Homo sapiens: one gene and its partner. The protein of the gene in region 2 interacts with the protein of the main gene of each other region in a biochemical or structural test. Each region holds a gene or a part of one and is shown on either strand. Other genes may lie near its edges. The genes, in order: SRPK1 and PRM1.

Region 1 (7,289 bases), on a different chromosome or scaffold from region 2:
CTCGCTCTGTCGCCCAGGCTGGAGTGCAGTTGGCGCGATCTCGGCTCACTGCAAGCTCTGCCTCCCGGGTTCATGCCATTCTCCTGCCTCAGCCTCCCGAGTAGCTGGGACTACAGGCGCCCGCCACCATACCCGGCTAATTTTTTGTATTTTTTTTTTTTTTTAGTAGACACAGGGTTTCACCGTGTTAGCCAGGATGGTCTCGATCTCCTGACCTTGTGATCCGTCTGCCTCAGCCTCCCAAAGTGCTGGGATTACAGGGGTGAGCCACCGCGCCTTGCCGTTTTTTGTTTTTTGTTTGTTTGTTTGTTTTTTGAGACAGAGTCTGGCTCTGTCATCCAGGCTGGAGTGCAGTGGCACAATCTCAGCTCACTGCAACCTCCACCTCCTGGGTTCAAGCGATTCTCCTGCCTCAGCCTCCCGAGTAGCTGGGACTACAGGCATGCACCATGACACTGGCCAATTTTTGTATTTTTAGTAGAGACTGGGTTTTACCATGTTGGCCAGTCTGGTTCTCAAACTCCTGACCTCAGGTGATCCACCCACCTCGGCCTCCCAAAGTGCTGGGATTACACGCGTGAGCCACCATGCCCAGCCTTAATTTTTGTATTTTTAATAGAGACAGGTTTCACTATGTTGGCCAGGCTGGTCTCGAACTCCTGACCTCAAATGATCCGCCCTCCTTGGCCTCCCAAAGTGCTGGGATTACAGGCATGAGCCACCGTGCCTGGGCTGTTTTGTTTTGTTTTTATTTAGAGAAAATCCCGTTTGCTTACTTGCTTTTTTTTTTTTGCTAAATAAACAGAATTATTCTGTCTCCTAAAAAACACCTGAGACTGTAATTGTAAATAGATATATATGTTTAGATAAACCTATTGAATTATTGAGAGACAAGAATATCATGATATACAACCTTTTTATTGTTTTTGGATGAGACTGTTGTAGGCTCAATCTAAATCATTAATCTTACTCACTTTTTTTAATAACATGAATTCAGTAATACTATGTGGCTGATTTGACTATTAAGATTTTCTTCTGTTGAATTGATTGTATAAAAGAAACTTTTTATTGATAAAAGGTATATAGATGTTGAAAAATGTGATGTTAAAAATGCCTTTTCTTACCATTGTTTCTCATCCTGGTTTTTCTGATTGTATTTCCCCTGTTTCTTCCAGGAGGTTATCATCTTGTGAAAATTGGAGATCTATTCAATGGGAGATACCATGTGATCCGAAAGTTAGGCTGGGGACACTTTTCAACAGTATGGTTATCATGGGATATTCAGTAAGTTTTAGTGGTTCTGTAAAAGAATTAGTTAGATGATGTCTAAATGTGTTTGTCTGAGTTTCCACTGCTGATCCAGGCTTCAATCTATCTCTAGCCTGATTCATTTATCAGAATTTTGTTGTTGGCAATAGTCTCTGTATTCTTGGAGAAACCACTTTTCTTTCGTGAAGAATCAGTATTATATATCTCCCTTTCTACTATAGAGACAGGAGTGATTAAATTAATGCTGGTAAAGCTTTTGTCGTTTGATTTTTTTGTGATTTTTATCATTTTCTTTTCACCGAAGTATTTCTTCTGGCTGCCTATGGGAAAATATTACAGCTTTTAACCTTTTAGTTTTTGCCTATATACAGATATATACACAGAACACTTGGAATTTGGTAATATCTTTCCCCTTATTTATCCTCATTTTGCAGTTTTGCTTGTAACTCAGGGAGATATTCAAAAGAAGGATTTTAACTCAGAGAAAATGTTCAACAACTGAGATTATCTGAGAACAGATTTTTTATTCTTCCTATAAATGAAATCTGGCCAGTTAGTGTCATTAACAAGTATAAATGTTCCCATAGAAGTAGCTTGTTTGGGCTACAGGGAAACGTGAAATCAATATTTGTCCTTTTTAACCATCTTATAGCTAAATCTTAGCTTCCTAAAGTAAGGGTAGGCTATGTAGTCTTAATTGCCTGTGTTTGTTTCTTAGGGGGAAGAAATTTGTGGCAATGAAAGTAGTTAAAAGTGCTGAACATTACACTGAAACAGCACTAGATGAAATCCGGTTGCTGAAGTCAGTGAGTATTAGATTATATGTATGAATGTGAAGAATTATAAATAAATCAAGTTTCATTGAATAAAAACACACCAAGTGGAGGCTCTTTAGCATGGATAATTTTCTCTATAAAGTTCTAGTAACCTTAAAGAGGTAAAGGAAGACAACAATATTTACACATACCATGCATGTAGTAGGGAACTGGTGGCAAATGCTATGATGAGAATTCTTCTTACACGCATGAACCAAAAAAAAACCTTTCAAATGAATAAAAATATTCACTGAGCATGTTTTACAGGCCAGGTAGCTACTGTCATAATGTTTTTTTTTCCTACTATGGTTAAAAGGAAAGTTGTGTAAATAAATGTATAGCATCTTTTTTGTTGTTTTTCAAATATGTTATAGAATACATAATATAAAAATACTGTATTTACTGATTCCATTTATACCTGGAAACTGAGATAAATTCTATCAAAAATGTATTTTTAGTTCTGTTTTAAATTAGGAATATGCCAGTGTGGTAGAAGGAACTTAAATTCAGAATTAGAAAACCTGGGTTTAGGTCGCCTTTACCCCGGTATGTCCTCCATGTTACCATTTTTTTCTTTCTGAGTCTCAGATTTTTTATTCATAAAGTGAGAATGTTGCACCAGGAGATTTCTATGGCAGTAGTTTTCTTTTTTATTTTCAACTCCTGGCCTCAAGTGATCTGCCTTAGCCTCCAGAGTAGCTGGGGTTACAGGCACAAGCCACTGCATCTGGCTTAAGACAGTACTTTTCAGAATGTCCGTTTGTGACAAGATAAGGAGCCTTGTACCTACCCAAAAGTAAATCAACATACTGTTTTCTTCATTGAGAAAGTTTTTCCATGAAAAAAAAAATGTCCGCTGAAAAAAACAGTGTGGTTAGTGCTGTAGTTGATTTGCATCCTGCAAAATCTTCTTAGTTCCTCATAGCCTGGTAATCATCAGTTAATTTGGAGGCCACACTTTGATTGATATCAGGGAGCAAAATAGTTTAATTAGAAAAATAGTTCCTGTTGGTTGTATTTCCTCTTATGAATTGACTATTTAAGATTTTTCTCCATTAAAGCTATTGAAATTTTAGTATATTTTAAAAATAGATTTATGTGAGCTCTTTCTTGTAGTTAATTTGCTGTAAGTATTCTTCCCCTACCATCTGGTTTATTTCCATGCTTTACCTTGTGCTAAACACTGTCTCTTCCCCACTACAGGTTCGCAATTCAGACCCTAATGATCCAAATAGAGAAATGGTTGTTCAACTACTAGATGACTTTAAAATATCAGGAGTTAATGGAACACGTATCCTTTTAAAAACCTATTTGAGAATAAATCATCCCAATCCCAAAGAAAGGAACTAGATTTGTTGTGTAGATGGCCTTGGTGTCTTTTCTAAGGCAAACTATAATAAAATTACCTCTTTTATTGTACACTTCTGAACACACATCTGAATTTTGTCTAATTTTGTGTGGTGTGATTTTTCAGAATATTGCTTTAAGCTTCTTGTCCTCTTTTCAGGCAAATTAAAGCGAAATCAAAGGAAACTTTTAGAAAATGCGTTGTATCACTAAGTAAAGAGTCTATGATTTTTGTCAGTTAGCACAGAAACTTTAAGGGAAGTAATTTCTTATGAAAAATACTGAGTAGGCCGGGCACGGTGGCTCAAGCCTGTAATCCCAGCACTTTGGGAGGCCGAGGCAGGTGGATCACCTGAGGTCAGGAGTTCAAGACCCACCTGGCGAACATGGTGAAACTCTGTTTCTACCAAAATACAAAAATTAGCTGGGCATGGTGGCAGGCTCCTGTAATCCCAGCTACTGGAGAGGCTGAGGCTGGAGAATCACTTGAACTGGGGAGGCAGAGGTTGCAGTGAGCCGAGATTGAGCCCACTGCACTCCAGCGTGGGGGACAGAGCCAGACTCTGTCTAAAAAAAAAAAAAAAAGATACTGTCTAAAAGAAAGAGAAAAAGAGAGAAAGAAAAAGAAAGGAAGAAAGAAACTGGATGAACAATTTAAGGTATGATTGTATTTATTATACTAAGCCTCAACTTTGAAGAGGCTGTGAATGTAGTTTATGTTTAGAGTCTAAAAGGGTGTAATTGTTCACATTCTATTATAATGAAAAACTGACTTGTTTTATGTTTTTATCTGGATGTTTTAGAACTGTAGAATTGAAAGGAACCATAGCTGATTTTCTTCACAGGTATCAAAGTGACGTGCGGTGAGCTAATGGAAAGGTTATTGCAACAGCTGTGCTTATAAAGGTCAATCAGATTTTTCAGTAAAAGATGAAGTCGAATCTTACTTAGATTGGATAAATCTAAAATCACCTGTTTATAAGCTGTTTTTAAAATGTATAAAGACATTTCATACATTATTTTACTTTTCATGCATGTTTAGCTTCCTTTAATGCACATTCCTAATTGCTGTTGATCTTTTTGTATTTAAAGGAGACAGGACTACATATGACTAGTTTCATGTAGACTATGGGAAGAGATTTGAACAGAGAAGCAGGAAGGAAGGGATGGGAAAGGAGAGAGAACAGCTGATAATGTGGAAAGACTATTGTTCTAAAGTCAATTCTGAGTCATTTCTTAGAAAAATACAAATCACAGATTACCCAGATGTCTAAGGAAAACTGCTGCAACCATCTTAAAACAGTATCTTGTGCTTATTGTGGTCACTTTGTAGATGGCTCTCTCTCTCTCTCTCTCTCTCTCTCTCTCTGTGTGTGTGTGTGTGTGTGTGTGTGTGTGTGTGTGTGTTCAAAGAATTAAGAATTCTAAACCAAGTAATTTTTTAAAAACCTACACAGGGTGTCGTGATGGCCATATCTGTTTTTTCTATTATTTAATCTTGTAATGTTTGTCATTGTGCCAGATTTCTTTACTAATTTGCAAAAGTTCCAAGTAAAACTATAGAAATACTCTCAAATCTCCCCAGTAATGCTGAGTACCTTTATTTGACCCTAACTAAGCAAAGAAGGCTTTTTAACTATTGAAATATCTTAGTAGGTTTGAATTTCAAGTTCCAAGATATTTTTCTTTTTCTTTTTTGGAGTTCAATGGCATAATCTCGGCTCACTGTAACCTCTGCCTCCTGGGTTCAAGTGATTCTCCTGCCTCAGCCTCCCGAGTAGCTGGGATTACAGGTGGATGCCACCACACCCAGCTAATTTTGTATTTTTAGTAGAGATGGGGTTTCACCATGTTGGCCAGGCTGGTCTCAAACCCCTGACCTCAGGTGATCTGCCCGCCTCGGCCTCCCAAAGTGCTGGGATTACAGGTGTGAGCCACCGTGCCCGGCCCCCAAGATATTTTTCAAACATTGCTAGGTGGTTTCTCTGTAGCTTCTGTCCATTGATTCCCTATTTTATTCTTTTCTCCATTTGTTCTTAGCCATTTTTTCCTGTCTTTCTTCATCCTTATCTCCCAGCTGTCTTTGCTCCTGCATTATTTACTACTGTTAGAGATTGAAAGGATATAACTCAAAACACTATGTTAAGGGTTAGTAATGGCTCATGTCACTCTCCTGCCTCTACCCGTTTTCCCAACATAACATACCCACACAGAGCAGTACATCCACATTCGTGTGTATGTTTGTTCAGGCGTTTTTTTCTCTGGACCACTATCGTTTCTCATATTAAAATATAAAGGGCCCTAAACTAGAAAGTTAGTTCTTACAGAATTCCATATAAACTGGCTCACTCTACTTGCCTGGAGGGTGAGGGGAAAAGAATGATTAAGAAGGAGGACAGTTGGTTTCTCTATATAATGTTGACATTAGCCAGTCATTATTGTCTGCTTATATGACCTCCTATGTCTTTAGGATACTTTTTTTTTCATGCTGTATTCTGTCTGTTTTGCTAGCTCCTCTTATTCATAATGTGCCCTAAATGTGCTTACTCAATAACATAAGCCTTTTATTTTCAGCCTTTTGTTATTTTCTTTACACTGTCTCCCCATTAGATTTTTTTAAAAATATAACCTTGTGGGCCGGGTGCAGTGGCTCACACCTGTAATCTCAGCACTTTGGGAGGCCGAGGTGGGCGGATCACGAGGTCAGGAGACCGAGACCATCTTGGCTAACACGGTGAAACCTCATCTCTACTAAAAATACAAAAAAAAGCTGGGCGTGGTGGCAGGCGCCTGTAGTCCCAGCTACTCAGAAGGCTGAGGCAGGAGAATGGCGTGAACCTGGGAGGAGGAGATTGCAGTGAGCCAAGATAGCGCCAACTGCACTCCAGCCTGGGCGACAGAGCAAGACTCCGCCTCAAAAAAAAAAAAAATAACCTTGTGATTTCAATTACTAGTGCTTCTGATTGCTACTCATTAGCTTTCTTTCACTCAAATTATTTGGCTCTTCCTTTTTGCCACTTGATTATGATGTTCTGTCAAGTTTTTTTTTAAGCTACTATATGTTTGGTCATTTTAATATCACTGCTTACAAATTAAAACATTTTCAAATTGTAATACTTCTCTCAACAAATAAAAATTAAGCAGATGGAAGCTAGAAACATAAGAGAATAGCTTTACAATCCTATTTTATGTTTAGTCTTTTTAAGTAATCTGCATTTTAAATAATCTTGTTTTGATAATTTTTTTTATTTAATTGCTTTTTTATTTTTATTTATTTTGAGACAGAGTTTCGTTCTTGTTGGCCAGGCTGGAGTGCAATGGCGCAATCTCGGCTCACTGCAACCTCCGCCTCCCAGGTTCAAGCGATTCTCCTTCCTCACCCTCCCGAGTAGCTGAGATTACAGATGCACACCACCACGCCCAGCTAGTTTTTGTATTTTTAGCAGAGACGGGGTTTTGCCATGTTGGCGATCCACCTGCCACAGCCTCCCAAAGTGCTGGGATTGAAGGCATGAGCCACCATGCCCAGCCTATTTAATTGCTTGTTTAAAAAAATTTCCTGGCCAGGTGCAGTGGCTCACGCCTATAATCCCAGCACTTTGGGAGGCCAAAGCGGGCGGATCACGAGGTCAGGAGTTCAAGACCAGACTGGCCAACATGGCGAAACCCCATCTCTACTAAAAATACAAAAATTAGCGAGGCGTGGTGGCACGTGCCTGTAATCCCAGCTACTTGGGAGGCTGAGGTAGGAGAATGGTTTGAACCTGGGAGGCGGAGGTTGCAGTGACCTGAGATCATGCCACTGCACTCCAGCCTGGGTGACAGAGCAAGACTCCATCTCGGGTGGGGAAATTTTTT
Region 2 (5,163 bases):
ATAGAGCACCCCACTGGGTAGGGATCTGTTAAGAGGGTTTAGGAGGCAGGTTCTGGTTGTGACTTGGGGAGACTGGTTCTTGTTGTATCTTAGGGAGGCAGGTTTGGGTTGTGACTTGTTGGTACTACTAAGAGTTTGGAACAATGGCCAGGTGCAGTGGCTCATGCCTGTAATCCCAGCACTTTGGGAGGCCGAGGCAGGTGAATCATGAGGTCAGGAGATCGAGACCATCCTGGCTAACACAGTGAAACCCCGTCTCTACTAAAAATACAAAAAATTAGCCAGGTGTGGTGGCGGGCACCTGTAGTCCCAGCTACTCGGGAGGCTGAGGCAGGAGAATGGAGTGAACCTGGGAGGCGGAGCTTGCAGTGAGCCAAGATCGCGCCACTGCACTCCATCCTGGGCGACGGAGCGAGACTCTGTCTCAAAAAAAAAAAAAAGTTTGGAACAAAACCCAGCGTGACAACTGTCTTTCATGTCCCCCCCACCGACATCTTTCTCCCGTTGCATGCCCAGGCCCTCTCCCCCTCTGCTCATCCCCGAGCCCTCCTCCCCACTGAGCCTCCCCTCTCAAGAACAAGGAGAGAAGAGTGGGATGACTTTTCAACATTTATTGACAGGCGGCATTGTTCCTTAGCAGGCTCCTGATTTTTATTGGATGGTGGCATTTTCAAGATGTGGCAAGAGGATCTTGAAGTCTGGTAACATTCTCAGGCAGGAGTTTGGTGGATGTGCTATTTTGTGCAATTAGTGTCTTCTACATCGCGGTCTGTACCTGGGGCGGCAGCACCCTGGTGAGACCAAGAAAAGTGGTGAGAGGAAGGCTGGGCCCTGAGAGCTCCCAGCCTCAGCCCCAGCCCACCCTCAGCTGGGCCCACTTACTCATGGCTCTCCTCCGTGTCTGGCAGCTCCGCCTCCTTCGTCTGCGACTTCTTTGTCTCTGGCGGTAATATCTGCTCCGGCTCTGGCTGCGACAGCATCTGTACCTGGCCATGGTGCAGGATGGGCTTGGCCTGAATGCTCAGAGCAGGGCACCACCTTGGCTGAGCCAGCCAACCTGTGAGCAGGTGGAACTCTGTGGGCTGTGAGTCAGGGGCCAGCTCTGCGGCCTGTTATAGATGCCAGGGGGCCGTTGGTCATTGTGAGGGCAAAGGGGCTGGGACCTCACAAACCATGGCCAGGTGGCCTGCATCATGTCCATATATGGGCATTTGAGAGGCGGGCAGGCCCCCGAGTGTAGGGGCTGCCTATGTCACAGCTGGGGCGATACAAGATGACTCCTCCGTGGGAGCAATCATCTAGTTATTCAATTAACAAAATATTACTGTTAATATTTTGGCCTGTTCCATGCCGGATTTTGGCCTAGGCCCTGGTATATAGTGATAAACAAGACAGACATGCCCTTGTTAAGAAGTATTATTATTATTATTTTATTTTTTTAATTACTTATGTATTTTGTTTATTTTTTTGAGACAGAGTCTCATTCTGTCACCCAGGCTGGAGTGCAGTAGCACAATCTTGGCTCACTGCAACCTCTGCCTCCTGGGTTCAAGCAAACCTCTGGCCGCAGCCTCCCGAGTAGTTGGGACTACAGACATGCACCACCACACTCAACTAATTTTTGTATTTTTAGTAGAGATGGGGTTTCGCCATGTTGGCCAGGCTTGGTCTCGAACTCCTGACCTCAAGTGATCTGCCCGTCTCAGCCTCCCAAAGTGCTGGAATTACAGGCATGAGCCACCGTGCCTGGCCATTATTATTATTTGTAGAGACGGGCTTTCCCTATGTTGCCCAGGCTGGTCTCAAACTCCTGACCTTGAGCAAATCTCCTGCCTCTGCCTCCCAAAGCACTGGGATTACAGATATGAGCCACCACACCCTGCCCCTAATAGACTTTATAATCTAACTACAGAAAGCATGAATGAAACAGCCCTGAAGAATAATTGTAATAGTGACAAATGCTGATAATGGAAACCTCGGGTTTCTGAGGATATGTGCTGGGAGAACTTGACCTCAGGTGAGGCTCTAGGGAGAGCCCCAAAGGGGTGCTGGCGAAGTGAACCCTAAATGGATGCTATAGTAAGAGGAGGGAGGAGCACCTGGGAAGAAAGAGCTGCTCCTGCAACTGTTCTGAGGCGGTGCAGGATGTGCAGTTCTGTTTCTATGCAGGGCCAGGCAGCAGGGGATCCGTGGAGACAGAAAGTGATCGGGGTGACCAGGGCGGGTGGAGCAGGGAGCAGCTGTGCCATGGGTGGGGGGCTTCCTTGTGGGCTGATGCTTTGGAACTTGATAGAGGCGGTGGTTACACAACATTGTAACTGTACTAAATGCCACTGAATTACACACTTTATTTATTTATTTAATTTTGAATGAACGAATGACAGGGTGTCGCTCTGTCGCTCAGGCTGGAGTGCAGCGGCGCAATCTTGGCTCACTGCAAACTCCGCCTCCTGCTTCAAGCGATTCTCCTGCCTCAGCCTCCCAAGTAGCTGGGATTACAGACGCCCGCCACCACACCTGGCCAATTTTTGTATTTTTAGTAGAGATGGGGTTTCACCTTGTTGGTCAGGCTGGTCTCGAACTCCTGACCTCAAGTGATCTGCCCGCCTCAGCCTCCCAAAGTGCTGGGATTACAGGCATGAGCCACCACACCTGGCCTTGAATTACACACTTTAAAATGATGTATTTTATGTTACCTGACTTTCAGCTCAATTGCAAACACGAAAAGCTGTGAGGCCAAAAGGTGCTAACAGGTGTGAGGGATTGGAGCAGAGCATGGTGCAGGGCACTGGTCATGGTGTGGTCTTTTCCACAGCCCCATGGATTTTAAGGGTAAAGAGGGGAGCAGTTAGAATTGGTTTGGCTACTTAAACAGAAAACCGAAATGAGTGAGTTGGGTGGAAGTTTTATGTTTTTCTTAAGGAGTCAGAGGTGATTTCGGGGGTCATTAGATTGTCCCTGTTTGGGGGATACACATGCTGGAGGATTTAGGGGTGATGACATATGTTTGCCAACTACTCTCAAGGATTTACCCATAGAGAAAGAGGGAGAAGAAGGGAGAGAGAGGAGACAGAGATGGGGGCGGGGAGCTGAACAGATGTGACAGAACGTTCACAACTGGCCATGCCAGGCGCGGTGGCTCACACCTGTAATCCAGCTCTTTGGAAAGATCGGCTGAGCCCAGGAGTTCGAGACCAGCCTCGGCAACATAGAGCCCATCTCTACAAAAATAAAAAAAAAATAAAAAAGATTTTTTTGAAAAAACAATTGGCCAATCTGTGTAAAGGGGAGGTGTTTGTCAGGGGTTCTTGCAAGTTTTCTGAAATTTTGAAATTATTTCAAAATAGATTATTAAATTTTTTTAAAAAGAACAAAAGAAAACCCAGGGAGGTCAGCCAGGGCTGGTGTGAGGCTCCATCCTTTTCAAGGGTCCAGGCTTTTGTCTTTTAGCTCTGCCTTCAGCAAGTGCTTTCCATCCACAAAGTTGCCTCATAGTCCAAGATCAGGGCTGCCAGGGATGGTTGTGCAGTTTGTGTCCTGCTCCAAGCTCCCTGCCAAAGGGATTGAGTAGGGACTGAAATCCAGCCTGTGGTCTACTTGCCACTCCAGGCCCTGTACTCACAGGGAATGTTTCAGCCCATCGGAGCTGTCTTTTTCCTAATTTGCCTGCTCACAGCAGAAGTCTCTTCCAAATTTGAACAAAGGCACACTAAGGGCTAAACTTGGCCCTGCTGGAGTCCCACCCATATCCACCGTGCAAGCAGGAAGGAGAAAGAGGAGGGGTGGCAAAGGGAGTTCTTGTCTCTTTTTTAGAGACAAGGTCTAGCTCTTTTGCCCAGGCCGGAGTGCAGTGGCGCAATCATAGCTCACAGCAGCCTCAATGGAATCCTCATGGTATAAAGAGCTTTCCCAGATGCCCTGTCCAGCAACTTCCCCTTCTGATCACTGGCCTCCCTGCAAAAGCACACTGCCCCCTGGGGTAAAGCAGGGCTCCTAGAAAGGAGAAGGGGCTGATGGATACCAGGTAGACAGTTAGTACTCTCTTCCCCGAAGGGGATGGAGCCCACCCCTGACCCCAGCAAGATGGGGAAACCATGAATTTGAAGCTAAAGTCTATTGTCACTAAGAGGGATACAGTAGCACATAGTAGGTTAGCAGTAACTTTTCATTAATTGATTCAGATCTAGATTGAGGTAAAATTGTTACCCCCAATCCTCTAACACTTACTTTTTTTTGTTTGGTTGGTTTTTTTGTTTGCTTGTTTGTTTTTTAGATGGAGTTTTGCTATTGTTGCCCAGGCTGGAGTGCAATGACACCATCTTGGCTCACTGCAACCTCTGCCTCCCAGGTTCAAGCGATTCTCCTGCCTCAGCCTCCTGAGTAGCTGGGATTATAGGCATATGTCACCACGCGTGGCTAATTTTTGTATTTTTAGTAGAGACGGGGTTTCACCATTTTGGCCAGGCTGGTCTCAAACTCTTGACCTCAAGTGATCCACCCACCTCAGCCTACCAAAGTGCTAGGATTACAGGCGTGAGCCACCACACCCAGTCCAGGGTGACTATCAATCTTCGACATCTCATCAGGTTCCTCTGAGACCATGTGAGTTACCCTGTCTCTACTAAAAAGACAAAAATTAGCTGGGATGGTGGCTCTTGCCTGTAATCCCATCTACTCAGGAGGCTGAGGCAGGAGAATCACTTGCTGGGGTTACAGGCATGAGCCACTTTGCCCAGCCACAGAGATTAGTTCTGAGTTCTGGGAAGAGGATGCCCTGGAGCTAGGCGGTGGGGACATTTGGCCTCGTCTGGGATCTTGAAGCCTTCCGTGGTCATCTGAAATTTTGGGTTTGTCACAGCAGCTGGCTGTTACTCTAATACAGTACTTGCCACTCACTGATACTGTGTTTATAATTTGTCTCCCCAAGTGGGATGGAAGTTCAGTGAGACTTTCTTTTGTTCAGTGTGACAATCCTAATACTGAGAATAACCTGAACTAAAAGGAACTGAAATATTTGTTGAATGAATAAGTGAATGGCAAATGGATGCTTTGTATGATAGGATTCTTTTCTTGGCTTTTTCCAAATCTAAAATTGTGTTATCATGATTTTTAAAACGACGTTTAGCTTCTCCCTGCCAGCCACCCCACTTCTGTTGGGTATTG

What was found.
Region 1: of the proteins of PRM1 (region 2) and SRPK1, one has a biochemical effect on the other in vitro, tested with the Homo sapiens proteins (one study listed by BioGRID).

The regions. Positions count from the first base shown.
Region 1 is NC_000006.12:35,882,810-35,890,098, reverse strand, and holds part of SRPK1 (SRSF protein kinase 1), read left to right. Parts: intron 1-1,175; coding exon 1,176-1,284; intron 1,285-1,987; coding exon 1,988-2,075; intron 2,076-3,287; coding exon 3,288-3,375; intron 3,376-7,289. UniProt on the Homo sapiens protein: Serine/arginine-rich protein-specific kinase which specifically phosphorylates its substrates at serine residues located in regions rich in arginine/serine dipeptides, known as RS domains and is involved in the phosphorylation of SR splicing factors and the regulation of splicing.
Region 2 is NC_000016.10:11,280,245-11,285,407, forward strand, and holds PRM1 (sperm protamine P1), read right to left. Parts: upstream 1,087-5,163; 5' UTR 995-1,086; coding exon 883-994; intron 792-882; coding exon 748-791; 3' UTR 597-747; downstream 1-596. UniProt on the Homo sapiens protein: Protamines substitute for histones in the chromatin of sperm during the haploid phase of spermatogenesis. They compact sperm DNA into a highly condensed, stable and inactive complex.